5 separate regions of the Homo sapiens genome follow, and all the other regions are linked to region 3. Evidence: fine-mapped expression QTL. A gene starts in region 3. Each other region holds a variant in brackets. All regions are shown on one strand. Distances are from middle to middle.

What was found. PIP is the estimated chance that this variant, and not a neighbour inherited with it, causes the effect. A credible set is the group of variants that fine-mapping cannot tell apart.
Region 1: its variant is the best candidate, but not a certain one, in a credible set for the expression of PTPRU in atrial appendage (GTEx, PIP 0.90).
Region 2: its variant is the best candidate, but not a certain one, in a credible set for the expression of PTPRU in blood mononuclear cells (TOPMed, PIP 0.73).
Region 4: its variant is the best candidate, but not a certain one, in a credible set for the expression of PTPRU in spinal cord (GTEx, PIP 0.72).
Region 5: its variant is the best candidate, but not a certain one, in a credible set for the expression of PTPRU in skeletal muscle (GTEx, PIP 0.50).

Annotation. Positions count from the first base shown.
Region 1 is chr1:29,292,812-29,297,912 of GRCh38, reverse strand. All of the region lies in intron 15 of PTPRU (protein tyrosine phosphatase receptor type U), which reads right to left. Among named protein-coding and RNA genes, the nearest start is that of LINC01756, 55 kb to the left of the region's middle. The variant T/GGCACAGCTTCATGTT (reference allele first, on the strand shown) is at 2,938.
Region 2 is chr1:29,259,081-29,264,181 of GRCh38, reverse strand. It overlaps PTPRU (protein tyrosine phosphatase receptor type U), which reads right to left. Exons shown (of 30, transcript NM_133178.4): 4 at 4,840-4,921; 5 at 4,618-4,733; 6 at 4,138-4,312; 7 at 3,279-3,572. Among named protein-coding and RNA genes, the nearest start is that of PTPRU, 25 kb to the right of the region's middle. The variant T/A (reference allele first, on the strand shown) is at 2,223.
Region 3 is chr1:29,233,957-29,239,057 of GRCh38, reverse strand. PTPRU (protein tyrosine phosphatase receptor type U) reads right to left here and starts at 2,536. Exons shown (of 30, transcript NM_133178.4): 1 at 2,341-2,536. The coding sequence starts at 2,413. RefSeq lists a silencer at 2,414-2,733.
Region 4 is chr1:29,267,431-29,272,531 of GRCh38, reverse strand. All of the region lies in intron 7 of PTPRU (protein tyrosine phosphatase receptor type U), which reads right to left. Among named protein-coding and RNA genes, the nearest start is that of PTPRU, 33 kb to the right of the region's middle. The variant C/G (reference allele first, on the strand shown) is at 2,960.
Region 5 is chr1:29,311,949-29,317,049 of GRCh38, reverse strand. PTPRU (protein tyrosine phosphatase receptor type U) reads right to left here. Exons shown (of 30, transcript NM_133178.4): 22 at 4,344-4,498; 23 at 1,543-1,678; 24 at 899-1,048. Among named protein-coding and RNA genes, the nearest start is that of LINC01756, 36 kb to the left of the region's middle. RefSeq lists a silencer at 3,619-3,913 and enhancers at 3,646-4,221, 4,222-4,799. The variant G/A (reference allele first, on the strand shown) is at 2,630.

The DNA.
Region 1 (5,101 bases), 59 kb before region 3:
CAACCATACCCATCTCACCAAAATGCTGACCACTCCTGCCCAAGGGCATATTTTCTCAAAACTAACAGCACTGATTGTCCCCACTATCCACATAGCAATTAGCCTGGTCCCGACTTCCCTGGGTCAGTCCTGACTCCCCAACTCATCAGTGAATCCCAGGAGCAGAGCCCATGTTTCCTGCCTCTCTCTGTCTCTCAGCAAGACTCAGCGGTTAGGCATGAGCCCACACCACCCTGATCTCCCGCTCTCTCTAGCACCCACTGGAGGATTTAGTGCAGTCACACCTCTCCCTGTCTCCTCCCATGCCTATCACCACACATTTGCACATACAGTGCCTCCTCTACACATGCCCTTTCCTTCCCATCTCTGCGGTCTGAATCCTACCCATCCCTCGAGGTGCAGCATGATGCAGTAGAAACAAATTTGCAATTCAGAAAGACTTGCATTTAAGTCCTGACTCTGCCACTTTCTGGCTATTTAACCTGGACAAGTGACTTCCCCTCTCCAAGCCTCTGTTTCCTGATTTGTAAGCTGAAGGGTTAATAACAGCTACTAAGCAGGCAGGTGCGGTGGCTCACACCTGTAATCTCAGCACTTTGGGAGGCCAAGACGGGTGGATCACTTGAGGTCAGGAGTTCGAGACCAGCCTGGCCAACATAGTGAAACCCCGTCTCTACAAAAAATACAAAAATTAGCCAGGCATGATGGCAGGTGCCTGTAGTCCCAGCTACTAGGGAGGCTGAGGCAGGAGAATCACTTGAACCCGGGAGGCAGAGGGTTGCAGTGAGCCAGGATTGCACCACTGCACTCCAGCCTGGGCGACACAGTGAGACCCTGTTTCAAAAAAAAAAAAAAAAAAACAGCTACTAAGCAGGGTAAAATGGTATAAAATGGTGAAAATTTAATAAGAGAGATTACAAGGAGAATATGATTAATAAGTGCATAACACTGAGTTTAAAAACATAAATAAAATGGCCAAATACCTAGACAAATATAACTTATCAAAAATATAACTTTCTATTTTTAAAAAAATAGAAAGCCTGAATAGTTGTTTAGTCCTTTAAATATACCAAATTAGAACTTTAAAATCTGGCCAGACACGGTGGCTCACACCTGTAATCCCAGCACTTTGAGAGGCAAAGACAAGTAAATCGCTTGGGCCCAGGGGTTCAAGACCAACCTGGACAACATGACAAAACCCTGTCTCTACAAAAAATACAAAAAAAAAAAAAACAAAGTAGCAAGGCATGACAGTGGGCACCTGTCATCCCAGCTATTCAGGAGGCTGAGGTAGGAGGATCACTTGAGCCCAGGAGGTCGAGGTTGCAGTGAACCATGATCACACCACTATAGTCCAGCCTGGGCAACAGGGTGAAACCCTATCTCAAAAAGAAAAAAAAAAAAAAAAGAAAGGAAAGGAAACATCATAATCATCATGACCAAGTTGAATTTATCCCAGGAATTTAAGGTAATTTTTTAAAAATCTAAAAATGTCACTCATCCCATTAGCAGACAAAAGGGGAAAAAATAATTATCACAATAATTGCAGAAAAAAGTATTTGGTAAGTTTAATGCCCACTTAAAACCTCTCAGCAAACTAAAAACTAAAAGGAATTTGGTTAGCCTGATAAAAACATTTCTACCAAAACCCCAAAGCAATCTTCATTCTGTGTTTAAATGTTAGAAACATTCCTGTTAAAGTCAGGAAAAGAAGACAAGGATTCCAGCTACAACCAGTCTATTCAACACAGTACCGGAGGTCCCAGCCAAAAAAACATGGGGAAAAAGAATAAGAAGTGGGAAAGAAAAAACAACTATTTCTTCTGCAAAGGATATTCACAGATCCTTTAACTGCTCAGAAAGCCTGAAACATTCTACAGAGAAATGAGAATAAGAAAGCATATCGAGAAGTATGTATATAAGGCTAGGCACGGTGGCTCATGCCTGTAATCTCAGCACTTCGAGAGGCCAAGGTGGGTGGATCACCTGAGGTCAGGAGTGCGAGACTGGCCTGGTCAACATGGTGAAACCCCATCTCTACTAAAAAAAAATACAAAAATTAGCTGGGCATGGTGGCGCACGTCTGTAGTCCCAGCTACTTGGGAGGCTGAAGCAGGAGAATCACTTGAACCAGGGAGGCAGAGGTTGGAGTGAGCTGAGATTGCGCCACTGCACTCCAGCCTGGGTGACAGAGTGAGACTCCGTCTCACAAAAAAAAAAGAAGTATGAATGTAAGATCAATATGCAATCAAAAATAAACTGCATTTCTCTATATAAGAAATGGAAATGTAATATTTGAAAAGTGTACCATTTGCAATAGAAGTCAAAAATAAAGAACCTAGGGACATCTATCTAAAAAAAGATGTACAAGATTTTATGGAGAGAATTATTGAAAGACATTCAAGACCTAAATAAATGGGGCAATATAAATCACTTTCATGGGTGGAAAGACAATTTCATAAGATGGCGATTCTTCCAAATTGATCTATAAATTCAATACAAAACCATCCAACAAAGTTTTTCAAGAAACTTAAAGAGATGACTCTAAAATTTATAACAAAGAGAATTAGCCGAGCGTGATGGCTCATGCCTGTAATCCCAACACTTTGGGAGGCTGAGGCGGGCAGATCACTGGAGCCCAGGAGTTTGAGACCAGCCTGGAGTAACATAGTGAAACCCCGTCTCTACCAAAAAAAAAAAAATGCAAAGATTAGCCAGGCATGGTGGTGCGCCCCTGTAGTCCCAGCTCCTCGGGAGGCTGAGGTGGGAGATCGCTTGAGCCCGGAAGACGAAGGTTGCAGTGAGCCCAGATTGTGCCACTGCACTCCAGCCTGGGTGACAGAGCTAGATCCTATCTCATTAAGACAGAGAGAGAGAATGAAAACAAAAATAGCCAAGACATCCTTGATGAAGCACAAAGTTGGCACAGCTTCATGT[T/GGCACAGCTTCATGTT]TCAGATATCAAGACTTAAATAGCCTCGATAATTAGACCGTGTGGTTAGGAATCAACCAAACCAACCAATGAAAGAAACAGGGAACTGAAAAATGATCTACTTATCTGTAGAAATGGGGTGTGCGAGAAAGATGGCACTGCAAATCAGCAGGGAAAGCGTGAACTATAATAAATGATGCTGGGACAGTGGCTTATCACCATGGAAAAAATAAAATCCTTAACTTATACCACCACACACAAAAATCAATTCCAGATGGATAAAGATTTAAATATAAAATGTAAAATGTTATAAGTTCTAGAAAAAAAGCAAAAAATATTTTATAACTTTGGATAGGGAAAACTTCTTTAAAAAACACAAAAAGTAGAAATCACAAAGAAAAAGACTGATGAATTTAAATACACAAAAATAAAAATCTTCTGTTCATCCAAAGACACTATAAATAACCTAGGAAGATAAGCCACAAATTGGGAGGAGATATTTGCAATTCACAAGTGACAAATGATTATTATCCTAAATATATAAAGAACTCCTAAAAACCACTAAGAAAGCAACAGAAAACCCAATAGAAAATTAGGTGAAAGACATGAACAGGCATTTCATGGAAAAAGAGACCTGAATGGCCATTGATGACTTGAAAATACGTTCAACTTCATTAGTCATCAGTGAAATGCAAATTAAGACTATAGAGAATTACCATTTTATACAAACTAATGTGGCAGAAGTGAAAAAGGCTGGCAAATTTTGATCTTGATGTAGAGCAACAGAAAGTCTTACACACTGCTGCTAGGAAAGAAAACAGGCAGAGTTGCTTTGGAAAGCAACTTGGCACTCTTATTAAGCTGAAGATGCACGTACTCCATAATCCAGCAATTCTATTTCTAGAACCTTGTGTGCAGGTGCATCTAGACATCCACATCAGAATATTCACAGCAGTCTCATTTGTGATAACAAGAAAACTAAAAACCAATCGAATGCCCATGGATGGCAGAATGGAGAAGTCAATTGTGATACAGCCATACAATGGGAAACTACGCATCAGAGAAAGTAAATGAACTGCAGCAAAACATCCACATGGGTAAATTTAAATATGATGTGGAGTTAAGTAGTGTGTGATTTCATTTTTATAAAGGATGAAAATGAGCAAAACTATACAATGCGTTGTTTGGGGATATATGTACACATGGTAAAACTACCCCCAAAAGTCCGGGCGCAGTGGCTCACGCCTGTAATCCCAGCACTTTGGGAGGTCGAGGCAGGTGGATCACGAGGTCAGGAGATCGAGACCATCCTGGCTAACACGGTGAAATCCCGTCTCTATTAAAAATACAAAAAATTAGCCGGGCGCAGTGGCGGGCGCCTGTAGTCCCAGCTACTAGGGAGACTGAGGCAGAAGAATGGCATGAATGCGGGAGGCGGAGCTTGCAGTGAGCGGAGATTGCGCCACTGCACTCCAGCCTGGGTGACAGAGGGAGACTCCGTCTCAAAAAAAAAAAAAACAAAAAACTACCCCCGAAAAAGGTAGGAAAATTATAAACACAAATTTCAAGGGAGGCTGGGCACAGTGACTCACGCCAGTAATCCCAACACTTTGGGAGGCTGAGGCGGACAGATCAATTGAGGTCAGGAGTTCGAGACCAGCGTGGCTAACAGCGTGGCTAACATGGTGAAACCCTGTCTCTACTAAAAATACAAAAACTGGCCAGGTGCGGTGGCTCACGCCTGTAATCCCAAGACTCTGGGAGGCCAAGGTGGGTGGATCACCTAAGGTCAGGAGTTCAAGACCAGCCTGGCCAACATGGTGAAACCCCATCTACTAAAAATACAAAAATTATCTGGGTGTGGTGGCGCACACCTGTAATCCCAGCTACTCAGGAGGCTGAGCCAGGAGAATTGCTCCAACCCTGGAGGCAGAGGTTACAGTGAGCCAAGATCACACCACTGCACTCCAGCCTGGGCAACAGAGTGAGACTCCATCTCAAAAAAACAAAAAAATTAGCCGGGTATGGTGGCAGGTGCCTGTAATCCCAGCTACTTGGGAGGTTAAGGCAGGAAAATTGTTTGAACCTGGGAGGCAGAGGTTACAGTGAGCCGAGATCATGCCACTGCACTCCAGCCTGGGTGATAGAGTGAGACTCCATCTCACAAAAAAAAAAAAAAAACACA
Region 2 (5,101 bases), 25 kb before region 3:
TTTTTTTTGAGACAGAATCTCAGTCTGTCACCCAGGCTGGAGTGCAGTGGCACCATCTCAGCTCACTGCAACCTCCACCTCCCGGGTTCAAGCGATTCTTGTGCCTCAGCCTCCTGAGTAGCTGGGACAACAGCCCACCACCACACCTGGCTAATTTTTGTATTTTTGGTAGAGGCTGGGTTTCATCATGTTAGCTAGGCTGGTCTCAAACTCCTGGCCTCAAATGATCTGCCCTCCTCGGCCCCCCAAAGTGCTGGGATTACAGGCATGAGCCACCACCATGCCCGGCCTACTCAGAATATATAAATAATCTTACAACTCAATAATAAAAAGACAAATAACCCAACTTAAAAATTGGTCATTTTTAACACTCTGAAGACATTTCTACAAAGAAGATATAGAAATGGTCAATAAGCACATGAAAAAATGCTCGATATATCATTAGCCATCAGGGTAATGCAAATCAAAATCACAATGAGATACCATTTCATATATACTAGAGTGCTTATAAGAAGACAGATAATAACAAGTGGTGACAAGGATGCAGAGAAACTAGAACCCTCATAGACAAGTAGTGGAAATTTAAAGTGGTACAGCTGCTTTGGAAAACAGTCCAGCAGTTCCTCAATGAATAAACACAGAGATATCTTATGATATATATGGTACATAAGAAAAATGAAAACATATATCAATATAAAAACCTGTACACAAATATAGCAATACTGTTCATAATAGCTGAAAAGTGTAAACAACCCCAATTTCCATCAACTGATGAATGACAAATAAAATGTGATATATTTGTATAATGGAATATTATTAAGCAATAAAAAAGAATGGAGTATTGATACATGCTACAATGAGGATAAACCTTGAAAACATCATGTTAAATGGAAGAAGGGTCAGGTGCAGTGGCTCACGCCTGTAATCCCAGCACTTTGGGAGGCTAAGGCAGGCGGATCACCTCATGTCAGGAATTCGAGACCAGCCTGGCCAACATGGCCAAACCCCATCTCTACTAAAAATACGAAAATTAGCCAGGCATGGTGGTGGGTGCCTGTAGTCTCAGCTACTCAGGAGGCTGAGGCAGGAGAATCCCTTGATCCCAGGAGGTGGAGGTTGCAGTGAGCCGAGATCACGCCACTGCACTCCAGCCTGGCGACAGAGTGAAACTCCGTCTTAATAATAAATAAATAAATAAATAATAAAATAAATGGAAGAAGCCAGTCACAAAAGATTATATATTATATGATTCCATTTATGTGAAATGTCCACAGAGAGGCAAATCCATAGGGACAGAAAGGAAATTAGTGGTTGCCTAGGGCTAGAGGTGTGCGAGTGAAATGGGGATGACTGCTAAAGAGTACAAAATTTCCTTCTGAGGTGATGAAAATGTTCCAAAATTGATTAATGGTTAATGGTTGACTCAATTAATTAATTGAGTTAATGGTTGTGTAACTCTGTCAATACAGTAGTCCCCCCATATCTGCAGGGGACACATTCCAAGACCCCTAGTGGATGCCTTAAACCACAGAGAGTTCCGAACCCTAGATAAACTATGTTTTTCCTATACATACACACCTATGATAAAGTTTAATTTCTACATTAGGCACAGTAAGAGGCTCACAACAATAACTAATAATAAAATAGAACAATTACAACACCACACTATAATAAAAGTTATACAAATGTGGTCTGTCTCTCTCTCTCAAAATATCTTATTGTATTGTACTCACCTTTTCAAGCCTCAAGTTGACCACAGGTAACTAAAACCATAGAAGGAGAAACTTCAGATACACGGGGACTACCGTATACTAAAAACCACTGAACTGTACATTTTAAGGATTGAATTGTATGAGATGTGGATTATATTGCAATAAAGCTGTTATCCAAAAAAAGCCAATTCTAGAGGTTATATACTCTGATTTCATTCATATAATATTTTTGAAACAACAAAATTTTAGAAAGGACAGATCAGTGACTACCAAAAGTTGGGGAGTAGAGGAAGAAAGGGAGGTGAATGTGGTTATAAAAGAGTCCTTAAGGGGATTGAACTATTCAGTATTTTGACTGTAGTGGTGAATACACAAACCTACACATGTGATAAATTGTGCAGAACTACATACACATATACACACACACAAACAAGTACAAGCAAAACCAGAAAAGTCTGAATAAGATCTGTGGTTTGTATCAATGTGAATATCTTGACTGTGATATTATGC[T/A]ATAGTTTTGCAACATGTTACCACTGCAGAAAATAGGGTGACTTGCACAGAGAATCTTTCTGTATTTTTTTTACAACTGCATGTGACTCTACATTTATCTTAGTAAGTCCATTAAAAAAACACACTAAGCCAGGCACGGTGGCTCACGCCTATAATCTTAGCACTTTGGAAGGCCGAGGCGGGTGGATCACCTGAGGTCAGGAGTTTGTGACCAGCCTGGCCAACCTGGTGAAACTCTGTCTCCAGTAAAAATACAAAAATTAGCCAGGCATGGTGGAGCATGCCTGTAATCCCAGCTACTCGGGAGGCTGAGGCAGGAGAAGAATCACTTGAACCCAGGAGGCGGAGGTTGCAGTGAACCAAGATCGCGCCACTGTGCTCCAGCCTGGGTGACAGAGCAAAACTCTGTCTCAAAAGGAAAAATAATAACAACAACAATACTAAAGTCACAAAAAGAAAAACCTATTGTGTTCTCAATTTCTCTTCTGATTAAACAAAAAAGACCCTCATCTGGCACAGGTGTACCATCCTCCAACAGCTGCTTTGCCCTTTTTAACAAGGAAGAGCAGACCTCAGGCTCAACACCCAGACAAGAGAAACCAGCTAGAATGTATAATATACTTGTATTTGATGGTATTTAGTTGCTTATTTTATCTAGATGTAGAATTAAGAACACAGATTCTGGAGTCAGCCAGTCAAGAGTTCCAATCCCATCTCTGCCACTTACTAGCTGTGTGCTCTTGGGCCAGTCACTTAACATCTCTGTACCTCAGTCACATCTAAAATGGGTACGACAAGAGCACCTACATCGTGGTAGTGTTGTAAGTTTTAAATCTATAAATATGGGTTTGTGTGTGTGTCTACACACAGATATGTTTAAGTGCCTGACACAAAGTAAAGTATTAGCTATCATTATCTTTACCATAACAAGGGTTGAGGAAAAATCACAATGTTTTAGAAAGGTTTACAAGCACAGGCCACGCTACCTCTCGAATGCGCCCCTCCATAGCCCTGGGCCCACCAGAGACTGAGGCCAGGGGTAGCTGCTGCACCCACCTGCGCATTTGGTGCGGCTGATGAGGGGTGGCCCAGGGCGGCCAGTGCCGCCGTCTCCGGGACGCGTGAGCAGCACGCTGATCTCATACTCTGTGTCGGGGTCGAGGTGCCACAGCTTGTAGGTCTGCAGGCTGACGGCGTGCACCTCAGCCCAGGGCCCGCGCGCCATGCGGTACTCAATCTCCTTGCGCACGATCGGCCCGTCGCCAATGATGGAGTTGGTGTTGAGCTGGATGATGAGGTAGGTGGGGCCAGCACGCAGCAGCTGTGGGGGCGCGATGGGAGTTGGGGGCTCTGCGAGGAGATGGGGGAGAGGCGAGGCGGACCGATGCTGCTGTGAGACCCCAGCACCCAACTCTGAGTTCCACCACACCCAAATCCCTCTCCGTCCTCCTAGGGCCTCTCACGCTGCTACCAAGCCCTCAACCAGACCCGCTCTCCTACCCCCACTAAATCCCGGGCCCTAAGGGGCACCTGGCTCCAAAGGCTGACCCCGCCCTCGCCCATCAGCCCACAACCCCTCTCTCAGGCCCCTCCTAATCCCCCACATCCTCGCCTCCTGGAGCGGACCGCAGGCCAGCTAGGATCAACACAGAAGTCACACAGCCAGAACCCCACCCCTCTTTAGGCTCTCACCTTGACCCTGTCCGTCCCCCTCGAAGCCAGCCCCGACCCCTAGATCAGATCTCATCCCGGCTGGGCCACTGCCATTTCCACAGGCCCATCTTCAGATAGCGCCCCAGCGACACCCTGCCGGCCCCACCCCCCACGGCCACGCCCCCGGGCAGAGCCCGCCCCCGTCGCCGGCCCCGCCCCTCGAGGGTGAGGTCCCGGCGCTCCCCGGCGTCCACCAGCTGACCCTTGACGATGAGCTCCGCGAAGTTAGAGACGCCCGCGCCGCGCGGGGCCTGGGACACACAGCGGTACAGGTCCTGCTCGGCGCGGCTCACGGCAGCCAGCGGGAAAGTGGCCAGGAAGCGCCGGTGGCTGATGTGCCGCACGCCCGCCGCCGGCACCAGCGCCCCGCTCTGCCGCTGCAGGGAAGAGAGTGAGGGGGTCAGGGGCGCCTCGGAGCGAGGGGTCCCGATCTCGCTCTGACCCGGGCCCCATTTAGCCGTCCCTACTACACCGCGCGGACATAGGTTCCTGGAGCCGCGCTCTAACCTGGGGGAATGGGGGACCCAAGAAAGCGCAGAGCAGAGCTAGGGGAGGGCCGGGACGCTGTGCGCAGTGCTGGAGTATGAAGCAGGGACTCAGCAATCTGGGGGGAGTCAGGGCCAGAAGCAGCCACCAACCCCCTCCCACCCCGCCCCCAGCCAAGATCACCGCTCCCGCTCACTTGCAAGAGGAAGCGTTCGGCCTCGGCCGCTCTGCCCGCGGCCATGCACTGGAACGACGCGTTCTGGCCCGCGTTGACCTCCACGTCGCCCAGGCGGGAGAAGTGTGGGGCCTTTGCTGCGGGGTTAGAGCTGCATCGTGAGCTGGGCCTGCACCCCCTGCAGGCAGGAGCCGCGGCCGCCCACACCCCTTACCCCTGCGCCCCCAGTGGGCTGGGACTCACCGCAGGGGTAGCTGAGAAGCAGGATGTCATCTAGGCCCATGTAGCCCCTGCGGTCTGGGGAGATGAGGGCCTCAAACAGCACCTGGGGGAGGCGGGAGGGCCCCTATCATACTGATATTCCTCCAGCCTTGCCTGGGGAGGTGCCCACTTTCAGCTCGGCCTCAGCCTCCTCTGCCTCAACTAGCAGAGGTCAGCCCAGCTCACACTGACCCTCCCTCCCAAGCCAGCTAGTTGGGGGTGGGGTCCCAGCGCCCATAGTGAA
Region 3 (5,101 bases):
ACAGCCTCTGTCTGGGGCTTTGCAACAACTCTCAAATCCATTTTTTGTTCCCTGGCACTCACAGACAGAGCCTTACTTTACAAGGTACTTGGTATCTACCAAAAGTGCCATACACCATTATCATGATGGCTATGAGGCAGAAGAGGAAACTGAGGCATCAAGAATGGGAGTAACCTGCTCTAGGCCTCACTCCCAAACTTCAGTTCCTGACAGTCCTCCTGCTGGCAGGGCTTGGGGCTTGTGAGTGTTCTTGAAATCAAAGCGATGGTGGTAGGAGCGGGGATGGGGCGCATACAGAACCCCGCGGGTTTGATTTCACGGTGGGAGAGGGAGGCAAAGTTGCCGCAGGACATGGGGGAGAAGTTGGGGAGGATGGGGTGGGAGGTCGCCTTGGGCGTCCTTTCGGGAACGGGGAGGTCAAAGCTAAAGCTGTGCCCTATGGCCCCGGAGCTGCAGGGCGAGGCCCAAGCGCTGGCCAGTGGCCGGCGCGAACGCTGGAGCCACAGGAGTTCCGGCCCGAGACACCGGAGCCAGCAGCAGGGCCGCGAACGCGATGCCGGGGAGGTCAGTTGTCTGCGGCTGGCGACCGTGAGGAAGCGGCTCCGCTCCAGCACGTGTCTCGGCTCGGATCCCGCCCCGGGCGTCTCCCGGCTACCCGGAGCCCGCGGAGCAGCCCCGCCGGTGGCGAGGGCGGGGGAGGTCACCCGGAGCAGGGCCCCGAAACTCCGCGGGAAGGGGCCGCGGTCTAGGATCCCAGGCCTCAGGGTGGGATGTGGAACACGCGCACGCACACACATCCGACACACCGTCCACACTCCGACGAGCACACGGACACACAAACACAGGCTCCGTATACATACATTCAGCTGCGCGCACACACACACGCGCACGCACACCAAAGACACCAGACTCCGAAACACACCCGGAGAACGCGACCACACAGCAGACAAGCGCGGAGCCACACGCTCACACTCACGCTCACACTCAAGCACACACCTGGCGGTCCCGGCCGGCCGGGAGGCCGCACAAAGTTGCAGGCTCCACCAAGGGAGTGTCCCGGGAGGCCCGGGCGTCCCCCGCGCGTCCTGCGCGCCAAGGGAGGGGGCGCCGTCCCCCGGCGGCGAGCCAGGCCCTGCCCGCGCCCGGACGTCGCAGCCCAGCCCGGGGACAGCCCCCGCCCGGCCGCCCGGGGCGCAGCCGCGGCCCGGCCACCGCAGGAGCGCCCGCCGGTCCGGCCCTCCCCTGCCCGCCCGCCGGCCCCTCGCTGGGGCCCGCTGGCCCGGGCGCCCCGCAGCCCCGGCGCCGCCTCGGATCAGCCGCCCGCCAGCGCCGCGCGGAACTTGCGAAACAACAAACAGTCCGACATGCCCGAGGCGGCGGCCGCGGGGCCCGGTCCTCCCCTGAGCCTCGGGCCCTGCCCGACCCGGGCAGCCCAGGGGGCGCCGCCGCGACAACTTGTTCCGGCCCAGCGCGCCACACACGCGCACACGCACACGCGCGCACACACGTCCTGCCACCGCCCCCTCGGGCGGCCCCGGGACCAGGGCACACTCGCAGCCGCGGCCCAGGCGCGCTCCACACTCGCAACATTCCTGGACGCGCAGCCAGCACACACGGACACATTCGCACACACTCACATCCGTTCCAGACTCGCTCCCACACACGCATTCCCGGCACACTTGGCATTCACTCGGACCCACGCGGCCCCCGGCAGCACACACCACATACCCTAGACACTCCCCACACGTACACAGCGCACGGACACACACGTTCCGGACCCGTTCCCACGCCTTCACACATGTACACGGATCTCAAAAGCACACACGCCACACACGCGTTCCCGGATCCACACTCAGGCGGGATCCAGAGAGCACCCTTGGCCACAGGCATAACACAAACACACAACCCACTCGCAGACACAAAACAAACAGCACTCCCGGCCAGGCATACAAAATGCAAACAAATGCAACACATTAGCAGATACAACTCCCGCAACACAACCAAACTCAGATGCACACACAACCCACTTGGCCACACAAACACTACACACTGGCAGACCCACAAGACACTCAGCGCACACCCAATGCCTCGATGCACACAACATTCACCCCCAACATACTCGCCGACACACATCACCTTTTCTTGCGCACAGAACTCACGGACACACAACATTCGCAGTCACGCAACACCCCGGGCACACAATCGCCCATCCTACGCTCAGACACACACAGGGAGCACGCTCGTAACGCCCGGTCACTCAACACTCACACTTTCTTCCGAGCTACGCCACGGGCCCCGAGGCTCGGCGGGGCAGGCTCGGTCCGGCCGCCGCGCGCTTACCTGCCGGAGTCTCGGTCTCCGGCGCGCAGAGCTGGAAGGTGAGTGCCAGCACGAGCGCCTGGGCACGGGCCATGGTTGGAGCGTCGCCGCCCGTCCCGGGGCCCGGCGCGGGGGACGCCGCCCCCGGAGCCCGAGCCCAGCCCGAGGCGAGCCGGAGCCCGAGCCGGAGCGGAGCGGCGCGGCGCGGAGCGGGACTGGCGCCGAGTCCAGAGCGCGAGCCGGAGCAAGCGGGGCGCTGACGTCAGGCCCGGCCGCGGGTTCGGCGGTCTCGCGGCGCTCCCTGCTGGCCACGGCGGGTGCTGCAGCGGGTCCGGCCGCCCGCTAGCCCTGGCGCGCCCCTCCCCCGCTCCCGCATCCTCCCCGCCATGAGGCCCCGCGGCTGGGTCTGGACGCCCACGGACGTCTCCACGGACCGGGCACCAACACTGCCAGGCGAGCACGCTCATGGCCCACGCCTAGCTCCCGTACAGCGCTCTCAGGGACGGTGACCCAGGGACACCCGGCCTCTGTCCCATCCGATGCCTGAATCCCTTGTACCTTGGCGCCTTCAAATGCGTGTTCTACATACCTCCAGGAACAGGGCGCTCATCACCTGGCCAAGAGCGGTTGTTGGGGCTTTGGAAACGCCGGCTTTTAGAAAGTTTTTCATTTCATGACGTGCAAGTCTACCTCCCTCACTAGCCCTCACTGGTCCTACTCTACCTTCTGGCTACACAGGTTAAATGTATTTGGGCCTCTACCCAGAACGAGCCCTCGCACTATGATCTGCAAACTCGTTGCTCATTACTATGTAAGACCAGGTACCTTCTATGTGTTTAACCCACATGGACTCATTTAATCATCATATATTAGGTATGCAATAATTATACTGCATAAATACTGTTATGCAACAGTATTTGACAGCACCGAGATTTGAATCAAAGTTGTTTGGTTTGAATTGAATAGGGGCTGAGACCTTCCTCCCATCTGGACACCTATTCATTCAACAAATATTTATTGGGGTCTATTCATTTATTCAACAATTACTATAGGCCAGGGTAGAGATATAAAACAGACAAAAATTCCCTACTCTCATGGACCTTACATTCCAGTGGGAAGACAAGAACAGTAAACAACCAAAAAAACAAAAACAAAAAAGCAAACCCTCTGGTGTACGTCCTTTATCACTGTCTCATACACCAGGAAATTTGGGGGTGGTGGGGGGACAGGGAAGGGAAGGGGAATTGTTGCAATTTCAAATAGAGTGCGGGCTATATGATGAGTTCATTATCTGTCTCCACCTCTAGAAATGAGCTCCCTTGGGAAAAGACTCATCTTGTATTTCCGTGCCCAGTATATGGCATGTTTTTATTATTTTATTTTATTTTATTTTATTTCAAGATGGAGTTTCACTCTTGTTGCCCAGGCTGGAGTGCAATGGCGCAGTCTTGGCTCATTGCAACCTCTGCCTCCCAGGCTCCAACAATTCTCCTGGCTCAGCCTCCCAAGTAACTGGGATTACAGGTGCCCACCACCACGCCCGGCTAATTTTCGTATTTTTAGTAGAGACAGGGTTTCACCATGTTGGCCAGGCTGGTCTGGAACTCCTGACCTCAGGTGATCCACCTGCCTCAGTCTCCCAATGTGCAGGGATTACAGGCGTGAGCCACCGCGCCCGGCCTCTGGCACGTAATTGATGCTCAATAAATACTGACTGGATGGAATGAATGAAAGGGAAATGGTCCTAGCCTTCATGAATCTTACATTCTATTAGGAGAGCCCAACAGCAAACATGTACATAAATATATCATTACCATCTAAGATATGCAAGCTAAAGGAAACGAGGGAGTATAATGATAAAGAACATAGGGAAGGGGCATCTCCTTTAGATAAGTGGTCCAAGAGGGCTTTGCTATAGAAGTGACATGGTGACATTTGAACTGAGACCTGAAGTATGAGAAGGAGCCAACCTCATGCAAATCAGTGGAGAGGAACATTGCAGTCAGAGGGGACAGCCTGTGCAAAGGCAGGAGCTGGTGGGTACAAGCAGCTGCAAGGAAGCCGGGCAGCTGGCATGGAGTGAGTCAGGGGCAGAAGGGAGCCAGGTGCAGCTAGACAAGTCAGCAGGGTCTGTAGGTCAGGCAAGAAACTATGAGCAAGGAAGGGGCTTGAGGTTCAACCCTAAGAGTAATTAATGGGAGGCCACTGAAGTGGAGTAATTAAGCAGAGGAGTAATAAGGAGTAATAAGTTCTGATCTCTGGGTTTTTTTTTTTTTGTTTTTTTTTTTTTACAGCTCCAGCTATAAAGACTGCTGAAGTAGGGAAAGCCATGGGCAGATGGGTCTGACCACTGGGCAGTGACACTGAACAAAGCGTAGGAGTTCAAGGTATATGTAGGCCCTCCCTGTGCCCTGCCCCTCCTAGCTGGCTTCATGCTGAGATGGACACACCTTGAAGCTGCCCTGGGGCTGGAGGAGGTATCGCTGGGTTGAGAGTTCCTGGGCTCTTGGTCTCCTCTCTTGTGAGAGCTGATGAGCTCCACACTGAGTTAGGAAAGGGACCAAAAGACACAGCAGGCAAGAATTAGACACAGATAATTAAATAGGGAGAGGGAGGCAGAAGCAAGAAGAAACCAAGGGGAAACCTTAGGGAAGAAACTAAGATACAGAGACGCTGGAGCAGAGAGGAGCCAGAGAGGCCCACCCAGAAAAGGAAACTCAAGGAGAGAAAACCAGTGAACAGAAGAAACAACCAAGGGTGCTGTTTGCAGAGGGCTCTTGAG
Region 4 (5,101 bases), 33 kb before region 3:
GGAGTGCACCAGTAACACAGTTTTCAACACTGGCCCCATGTACAGCACAATACAAGATTCTGTTTCCACCCAGAAGGTTTCCTTTCTTCCCTGGAATGCAGGCAAGCAGCATGTCTCCAGTTATACATGGAGCCATCGAAGAGAGATTTCAGCACTCACTAGGAACAAAGCCTGCCTCCTGACTGGCTCCCTTCTCCCCACAAGCAGGGACCACCCAAATCCCATCCCATATGGACACTGAGGGGCTGGCTGCCACTGCTCCCTGTATCCTGGGTACTGTGGGCTGCAAGCCCATTCACCACACTTAGGTTTTCTCTCCCATTCCTGGCCCATAGAGATTTTTCTAATTTTTTTAATGTAGTTTTGTTTTAAGCCATCATTCTTCTATGTTTGCGCCAGAGGAGGCAGATCTGGGGTGTGCTCACTTGCCATCTTTCCCAGAGGTCCTCGCGTTATTCTTCAACTCTCTGGCTGTGGTCCTGGCTGCCCTGTGTGCACTGTCCTGGGAGTCTACAAGAGCCGAGGTGGCTGCCCTGTGTGCACTGTCCTGGGAGTCTACAAGAGCCGAGGTACCACTGCTTTATTTGCACTACTGGGAGTGGCTCTCTGTTCCCTGCAGCTCAGCTCACACCATCCCCACCCCCTGGAATGCTGCCCTGCATTCCTTTCCAGCCTCTAGGGCTTGGCAGAAGCATTCTGCTTCCTAGTCCTCCTGCAGCATTTACAGAAGGGCAGGAGAAGTTCCATGTAAACGGGGGACGTATGCTGGGTAAAGACCACGGCAAACAGGACAGTAGTGTCCCATCCAAAAGGGGCAGCTACTGCTCACCTCTAGATGACTGTTGCCAGGCAGGACTACAGGTTCAGAGTTGCCAGATCCTCCCATTTTTCAAGAGGAGCCAGAAATTCCAATTTTTATGTGAAATCTCCAGATTTTTAAATACTGGCAACCTACTCAAGCTTCTTCAAATCACCTTACAGGGCCCAAGATAGCAACTTTGGAGGATGAAACTCCCAACTTCAGACTTAGGCATCTCATTCTTTGACAACTGTGCCACCTCCCATCCACCCAGGTAGACTGAGAGCTCTTTGAAAAGAAGGTCCACTTTTCTTTTTTCTTCCTGCCTACCCTGATCATATCTGGACAGATCCAGGGAGCTCAAATAGTTTGTTGACTACAGACTGATATGTTGATTGAGGGGTGTGAATCCATGAGTTTCTCCACGTTTCTAAAAACCATCTGGCACCCAGACACACTCTCTTCAACTGTCAACACACGCTGACAAAACAGAACTTGGGGACCTCAAAGCCCCATCCCTCTAAATTACACAGGGCTACAGGTCACTCCGAGATCAGAGGTCAAAATGCACATTAAAACAATGAGGATAACATTTAACAGCTGTTGAATTAGGCCACCATGTGTTGACTTTAGTAAGGCTAAACAAGATGCAATAACCCTGAAATGTTCAACTTTTTCTCATGGGAGGAGCTTTGGACTGGGATCTGGTACACCCAAGTTCACATCCTATCTCCACCTCTCATTAGTTCTTTTTTTTCTTTGTTTGTTTGTGTTTGTTTTTTTGAGACACAGTCTCACTGTCACCCAGGCTGGAGTGCAGTGGTGCTATCATTGGCTCACTGCAGTCTCAATCCTCCCACCTCACCTTCCTGAGTAGCTGGGACCACAGGCATGTGCCACCATGCACCTGGTTAATTTGTTTTGTGTTTTTTGTAGAGACAGGGTTTCACCATGTTGCCCCAGTCTGGTCTCAATCTCCTGAGCTGAAGTGATCCACCTGCCTCAGCCTCCCAAAGTTCTGGGATTACAGGCATGAGCCACTGCACCTGGCCATAGTTCTGTGGCTTCAGGCAAGTTACTTAACCCCCTTTGAATGTTGATGTCAGGTTCCTCCACTAAAAAATGGAGATTATGGCTGGGTGCAGTAGCTCATGCCTGTAATCTCAGCATTTTGGGAAGCCAAGGCAGGATCGCTCAGGGGTTCGAGACCTTCATGGGCAACATAGTAGTGAGACCTCATCTCTACAAAAATATAAAAATTAGCCAGGCATGGTGGTGCGCGCCTGTAGTCCCAGCTACTTGGGAGGCTGAGGTGGGTGAATAGCTTCAGCCCGGGAGGTAGAGGAAGCGGTGAGCCAAGATCATGCCACTGCACTCCAGCCTGGGTGACAGAGTGAGGCTCTGTCAAAAAAAGAAACAAAAACAAACAAATGGAGATTATGATGCCTACTTTAAAGAGCAAATGTGAGAGTTACATGAGATAATATGAGTCAAATTGCCCAGCCTACAGTCATTACCAGCCTACAGTCATTACCAGTCTATAGTAATTAATAAACATGTGTGCATTAACATGAGATGCCAGTAGCAGTATAAATTGGCACAACCATTTTTTAAAGCAATATATTTAAAAGCCCTTTCTTCAACCACTCCTGACACTTTATCCTAAAGAAATAACTCAGGGTGGGGGGAGAAGGGAAGAACTACAAGCGCTAGGTTTCTCAATATAGTATTATTTATCATTATAGAAGTCTGGAGGCAAACAGTCCAGCTAAATGGGGACATTCAATGGACTTCTAGAGTCAGTAAACATAATTATAAACAACATAACACACGTAACAACACCAAGCAAATGAAGCAGCATACGAAATGCTTTCTACATCCCAATGCAAGGGTGTAAAAATGTCTACTGCAGGCATATGGGCAGAGATGTGAAGAAGTCAGAAAAATTAAAACAGCTGTTGGGCTAGGATGATGAGCTTCGGAGTGCTTATTTTAAAAAATGCCTTCGCCTGATGCTATATTATTGTTTTTACAGTAAATAATATAGTGCGAGGGGAGTTTCATGGGGATGGAGGAGATGACAACACAGCTGGCCAACAGCAAAACAACTGCCGGCCAACGCGCCTAAGCAGGGAGGGGCCATGATGTCAACAAAGAGAA[C/G]CGTGTAATTCAGAAGGGCAGGGGGAGGTGTTTGCACCCTGTCTGCCAGGCCCCTGCCCCAGCTTCCGTCCTGGCCAGCCTATGAAAACTGTTTCACAGTGCCCAGCACAAAGTGGGCATTCAGCCCATGATGGTGGCAGCAGCAGCTGCTGCTGCTGCTGTTAAAAACACTGGATTAGGCTGGATGCACTGGCTCCTGTCTGTAATCCCAGCACTTTGGGAGGCTGAAACAGGAGGATCCCTTGAAGCCAGGAGTTTAAGATCAGCCTGAGCAACAGAGTGAAACCCTGTCTCTACAAAAAAAAAAAAAAAAAAAAAAAAAAAAATATATATATATATATATATATATATATGTATATAAATTAGCTGGGCATGGTGGTGCAAGCCTGTAGCCCCAGCTGCTTAGGAGGCTGAAGCAAGAGGATCACTTGAGCCCAGGAGTTCAAGGCTGCACGCAGTGAGCTATGATCGTGCCACTGCACTCCAGCCCAGGTGACAGAGTGAGACCCTGTCTCTAAAAACAAAATAAAACAAAAAACTAAAACAAAACACTGGATGAGAAATCAAGAGATTCAAATTTTGATTCAAGCTCTGCCATGGACTCACTGTGTAGATTTGTACAAGTGGCTAAATCTCTAAATCTGAGTTTATTCATCTGTAAAATGGGAATAATCAACAGCCGTCATCATGAAACCTGGGTTCTTGACCCACTGTCTGATCACAGCCAAGTCTCTTCCCCTCTCTGGGTTTCAGCTTCCCCATCTGTACACTAAGGGGAGTGCAATAGAGATCCTCTGCGGAACCCTGTGCTATGATTCCTTTTATCCTAAGTGGCAAACCAGAACTGCCTTTGAAAGATTAAAAACACCATCATTTACTGGGTGCTTACTGTGTGTTAAGCGCTATACTTCACATGCATTTAATGCATTTCCCTGCAATTGTCTGCATTTAACCCAAAACACTGGAGGCTCCAAGGTTCAGGCTTTCCAACTCCTCTTTCTTCCATCTACATTTATTCCCTAAAAATCTAAGGACTGAATCGGGGATTCTCAACCTCAGCACTATGAACATTTTAGACTAGATAATTCTTTCTTATGTGGCTGTCTGTGCATTGTAGGATGTTTAGCAGCTTCCCTGGCCTCTATCCCTTTAGATGCCAGTAACACCCCATTGCCGCCACCCAGTTGTGACAACGGTTATGTCCTCAGTCACTGTCAAATGTCTCCTAGGAGACAAAATTGCCCCTAGTTGAGAACCATTAGCGTAAAAGATCTCATCCAACCTCAGGGCTTTAAATGCCATCTATACCATCTCCACACTGATGACTTTCAAATTTCTATCTGCAGCCCGAACCCCTTCCCTGAACTCCACACTCATGTATCCATCTGCTGATGAATATCTCCACTTGAATGTCTAATAGGGATCTCGAAGTCAACATTTCCAACACAGAACTCCTGATCTATGACACCCACGTCAAATCAGCTGCCACCACAGTCCGCTCCAGGAAATGACAGCTCCATCATTCCTGCTGCTCTAGCAAAACACCTTGGAGCCATCCTTGACTTCTATTTCCCTTTCTCTCATCCCATATTCAATCCATCAGCAAATGCAGTTAGCTCTGCCTTTAAAATAAACCCAGAATCTGACCACTTCTCCCCACCACCACCACTTCCACTCGGCTCCCAGCCATCACCACCTCTTAAGCAGATCATTGCAGTAGCCTCCTCCCTGGTCTCTGCGGCACCTTTGCCCTCCTGGAGAACATTCTCCACAAAAGGGCCAGAGTGATCCTTTTAAACAAAAGTAGATGATGCTCACTCCTGCTCTCTAAACTCTTCAGTGGCTCCCCAGCTCTCTCTGTGTACAACGGCTCTAAGTCCCACATCTGCAGCTCAACTTCAGCCTCTTCTCCTGCCATCTCCCACTCAGTCACTAACACAGTGACACTGGTCTCCTGGATGCCCCTTGCACGTGCCAAGCATTCTCCAGCCTCCAGGCCTTTGTGCTGGCTGCTCAGTCGGGCTGGTGCTTGCTTCCCCCAGCAAGCCCCCAGCTCTCTGCACGGCTCAGTCCCTCACCTCCTTCAGATCTCTGCTCAAATGTCACCTTCCCTTGAGACTTTTAAAAATAACAACCCTCCAG
Region 5 (5,101 bases), 78 kb before region 3:
CCTGTGAGAAGTGCCAGGTCCCCAGCACGTGCCATCCTGCTGAGCCACTGCAGGAACCCTGGAGTGGAGGGGACTTCTGAGGTCTCTGCCACCCAGTGATCGCTCTCAGGCTTCTCTGGAGAACCAGCCTTTTCCCATCTCAGCCATGTGATATGGTGAGGCTGGTCCTGCCCCAAGAGCCAGGCCTTGGGCATGTGACCAGAGCCAGGGGCAATCAGTGAGCTCCACCTCTCCAACCTGTGACTGGTCCAGGGATGGGAACATGAAAGTCTGATCTAGGACTGTTGGGGGGATGCTGGGAGCAGCAAGCGCCTTTTTCCTAAGTCACCAGACAATAGAGATGATGGGAGCCCAGCACTGCTGGCGGCCAGGTGCAGGTCTGAGAATGAAGCCAAAAATAGGAGAGCAGAACCAAGGCAGACAGAAACCACCTGTTGGCATCATCATCTGAGCCCCTGGATCCAGCTACAACTGAAGCTGCACGATCCTCAGACTTTTCAGTTATAAAAGCTGGATTTTCATCACTCACAACCAAAAGAATCCCAATGAATACAAACACCCCAAGGGACATATTAACTACTTCTCTTCTCTGGGTAACAAAACTGAGGCTCAGAGAGGTAAAGGGAACTGTTCAAGGATACTCACAGCTCTTAACTAGGTAAGCCAGGATTTGAACCTGGGTTTATCTGACTTCAAAGCCTGGGCTCTTAACTGCTTTGATGCACCCCATCTTCCGCTGTCCCAAAGTCCTTCCTGGTAGCTCAGCTCTGTCCCTCCAGCTGTGGCCTCAGGCTGGTCCCTGCTTCTTGGCCCTCAATGACTCCTGCAGTATTAAGGATGCCCCAACACACACACAGACACACACACACACACCTATACACACGCACTCATCCCCCACCTGGAACTCTTCCCGCAGCTGGGAGGAATTACTCTGAGGATCAATGCGGATCATCTCCTTGTAGGTGGCCTTGAACTCACTGACAGGGATGGTGGTCTCCCCACACAGGCAGGCCTCCAGGATTGCATCATGAATGAAGATGTACTGCTCCTGGAACAGGAGATGAGAATGAGGCCGAGGAGGGGCCTAGAAGCTGGAGATCTGTGGTGATGGGGCTTAAGCAAGCTCAAGGTTGAAGCAGGGTGTCCTGAGGTGGAGGCCAACCATGTTACTACAGGCTGGACCAAGCCTACCTGAAACAACCTCCATGGACATGCCCCTTTATCTCCTATTTCATCCCTACCCCCTATAACAACTCTGTGAGTGCTCTGAGAGGTGGGGGACAGCTCACGGTCACACATCCACTGAGGATGCAATCCCAGGTATGTCAGCTACAGGACCGGTTGTCTGACCCCACCCAACAGAACACAGGGGAGCAGTTCAGGATGACCCTATGCAGTTGGCGGCCCAAGGTCAGGGATGATCTGAGGGAAGGCAAGAGCCTCAGGACACCCTTTGGGCATGCTCTGCCGGCTCCAGGATCCTTCACGAGAAACTCCAGTCCTAGAAGTAATAATGGTGGGGACAGGGCCAGGTCCCCGCACCTCAGTCTGGATCATGTTGACACGCCGGGAGCAGAGAGTCTTCACACAGTTGTAAATGTCCACGACGCCCTCACACTCTGCCATGTCCAGCATCACATCCAGGACGATATAGCAACCTGTGCGGCCGGTGCCCGCGCTGGAGAGAGAGCAGCCCCAGACCAGGTCAGAGCTTTGGGGAGGAAGCCCGGGACTAAGGAGAAGAAGAGAGGAGGGCACTGGCCATGTCTACACCATACAGGGGACACGGACACAGAGATGACTGCCCCTCCCCGAGTAAGGAGCCAGGACGCAGGCTGCTGGATGGAAGAGCTCTAGTGAAATGTGCTAGAGGACAGAGATGGGATGGGCCTCAGGGAAGGAGAGGAGAGAGGGTGGGGAGAATGCAAAGGTGACACTGGCTCAACCTAGCAACTTAAGATTAGGAGAGAACAGGAATGATGATCCTCCGAGCTAATTCAAGAATGTTCTTTCCTCCTGAAAACCACCAAATCTCCTACACATCCTTGAAAAGCCCACACACTCATACCCATTCACATACCCACTGGAGCATCCCTGACCCTTCCAGGATGATGTCATTCTTTTGAGTTCCCAAAGCAACGTGGGCAGGTTTTTATTAAAACACTCTTCGTGGCCAGGCACGGTGGCTCAGGCCTGTAATCCCAGCACTCTGGGAGGCCGAAGTGGGTGGATCACTTGAGGTCAGGAGTTCGAGACCAGCCTGGCCAACATAGTGAAACCCTGTCTCTACCAAAAAATACAAAAAATAGCCGGGTGTGGTGGCACGTGCCTGTAATTCCAGCTACTCAGGAGGCTGAGGCAGAAGAATCGCTTGAACCCGGGAGATGGAGGTTGCAGTGAACCAAGACCACACCACTGCACTCCAGCCTGGATGACAGAACAAGATCCTGTCTCAAAAAAAAAAAATTAATTAATTCAATAAAACACTCTTCCTGCTACATGGTCATTGTTTATGTGGCTGTCTCCCTAACTTGACTGGGGGCACATCAAGATCATTGTCCTCACGCAAGGTTGTGCAGAGCTGAGGGGGAAGGAGAGTGGACAAAGATGACAGCAAGATTTCAGGTTT[G/A]AAAACAGTGGCATCCACGTGCTAGCGAGGACATACAGCAACTGAATACCCCAAATACCCCTGGTGGGGCTTAACTTAGCACAACCCCCTTGTAAAACTGCTCAGCAATATCTCCTAAAGCTGAACGTTCACACAGATAACAGTTCTACTCCTACGTACATACCACACAGAAAGAAATACATTTCTTGGCCAAAAGACATACGATCGAATGTCCTTAGCAGCACTACTCATAATAGCTTAAGACTGGAAACAACCCAAATGCCTATCATGGCAGAATGGACAAACACACTGTCATTTATTCACTTGATGGACGATGATCCACTGTGGACGAGCCTCACAAACCTAAGGCTCAGGGAAAGAAGACAAACAGCAAAGAGCACATGCTGTATGATTCCATTTATGACAAGTCCAAAAACATGTGCAACTAACTGCGCTTTAGAAGTCAGAATAGTGATTTCTCTGGGACTGGGGATGGGGGAATTCAGGCCAGAAACGGGTTCAAGGGGGCTTCTGGGAACTGTTCATGTTCTGCTCCTTTCTTAACTTTAAAAAAAAATTTTTTTTTAGAGGCAGAGTCTCGCTCTGTTGCCCAGGCTGGAGTACAGTGGTGCAATTACAGTTTACTGTAACCTGGAACTCCCATACTCAAACAAACTTCCCACCTCAGCCTCACAGGTAGCTGGGACTACAGGCTTGTGCCACCACAACCCACTAATTTTTTTATTTTTGTAGCAATGAGGTCTCACTATGTTGCCCAGGCTGGTCTCGAACTTTGGGCCTCAAATGATCCTCCCACCTTGGCTTCCCAAAGTGCTGAGATTACAGGCATGAGCCCCTGTGCCCAGCCAATGTTCTGTTTCTTAATCTCAGTAGAGCTGGTTTTTTCACAAGTGTGCTCAGTTTATGAAAATTCATATTTTTAAACATATTTCTGCACTTTGCTTTAAGTGTATTATATATCAATAAAGTTTTGTTTTTAAAAGATGGCATCTTAAAGAGGCCTAAAGAAATCAAAGAGAAGCTGGTTTAGGTGGCAGGGCAGGGAGGACGACTCTACCATGCGGCATTTGGGGAGCTGATAAGAACACAGTAGAGGAACCGCAATGAGACACAGAGGCCATGGACAAAGCCACAAAGGTTGGGGGTTACGCTCTCCAGGGGGAGACAGAGGGCAGGCCAGGACAGCGTACTGGGTCCCCATTTAAGAAGCAAGAGAAAGATGTGGAGCCAGGGAGAAAGCAGAGAGAGGAGGGGCAGCTGGGGTCACGGGAGCCAGTCAGGGTCTGCAGAAGGTGTGAAGGCCAAGGGGTAGGCAAGGCCCACTGGGTTTGGTGGAGAGAAGTGAAGTCCTTCCCACCCCCAGGCCAGGCCTAGCACGCGGCAGGTGTGCAACAAAAAGCTGCTTACTGAAAGCAGGCAGAACTCAATCGTGCCTGGCGCCTCAGCGGCCCGGAGGCCCCTCCCTATCTCCAGTGCCTCCTCAGCACCTGGGTCAAGGGGCTTCACAGGTCTTGGGGGGCACATGAAGATGCCAACCTCAGAGCCAAAGGCCAAAGGGGACAGGGCCTTTGGGGGTCGTTCCCTCCTGCACTCCATCTCTAAGCAGGAGAACCCAGGCCTGGTCCCCACTACAGATCCTGAACCAACCTGACCCCAAGCCCAAATTCCCAGGGAGAAGGGCCCCTTTTCTCCTTGGGATTCCCGGTGCCCCCACCTGCAGTGGATGACAATGGGCCCGGCATCAGGTGGGGTGGAGGCCTTCACGCGCCGGATGAAAGCCAGCAGCCCCGTGGCATGGTAGGGGACGCCATGCTCTGGCCACGCTGTGAAGTGGAACTGGCGGACCTCGTGCCGGGCAGAGTAGCCTCTCTGGGGAGACAATGGGAATAATAATCAGAGTCCCTGGCAGCATCTGTCACCATTAGACACCTGCTGTGTGCCAGGCACTGCAGTAAGCATCTCATTGTATAATCTCAACTAATCCCAATGATCAATTTACTGATGAAGTAGGTATTAATGTCCCATTGTACAAACAAGAAAACTAAGGCTCAAAGAGGAGAAACCACTTTCCCAAGGTTAGAGAAACCAACAACATGCAGGATTTGGACAATGGTCTGCCTGATGCCTAAACCTGGGCTGTGAAATACTCACCTCTGCCACCAGGTTGTTGTGTAAACATATATCATTTTGACTCCCAGGGTCTTAATTTAAAGGAAAAAAAACTATCTTTCCTCTGAGGACTTTACAGAGCAGATCAAATGGGATCGTGGACAGGACTCGCTGGCCAGCCACTGACTATGTGGCCTCTCCTGCCTGGCATAAGCCCTCTGAGCCTCACTTTCTGTATCTGGGCTAATCACACGGAGCTTTCCAGGACTGAAACAATATTTATAACAGGCTCAGCACAGAGTAGGAGCCAGCACCTGGCAGATACTGTCACCCCCTTCATTGTCTCAGCTTCCTCCTATGGGC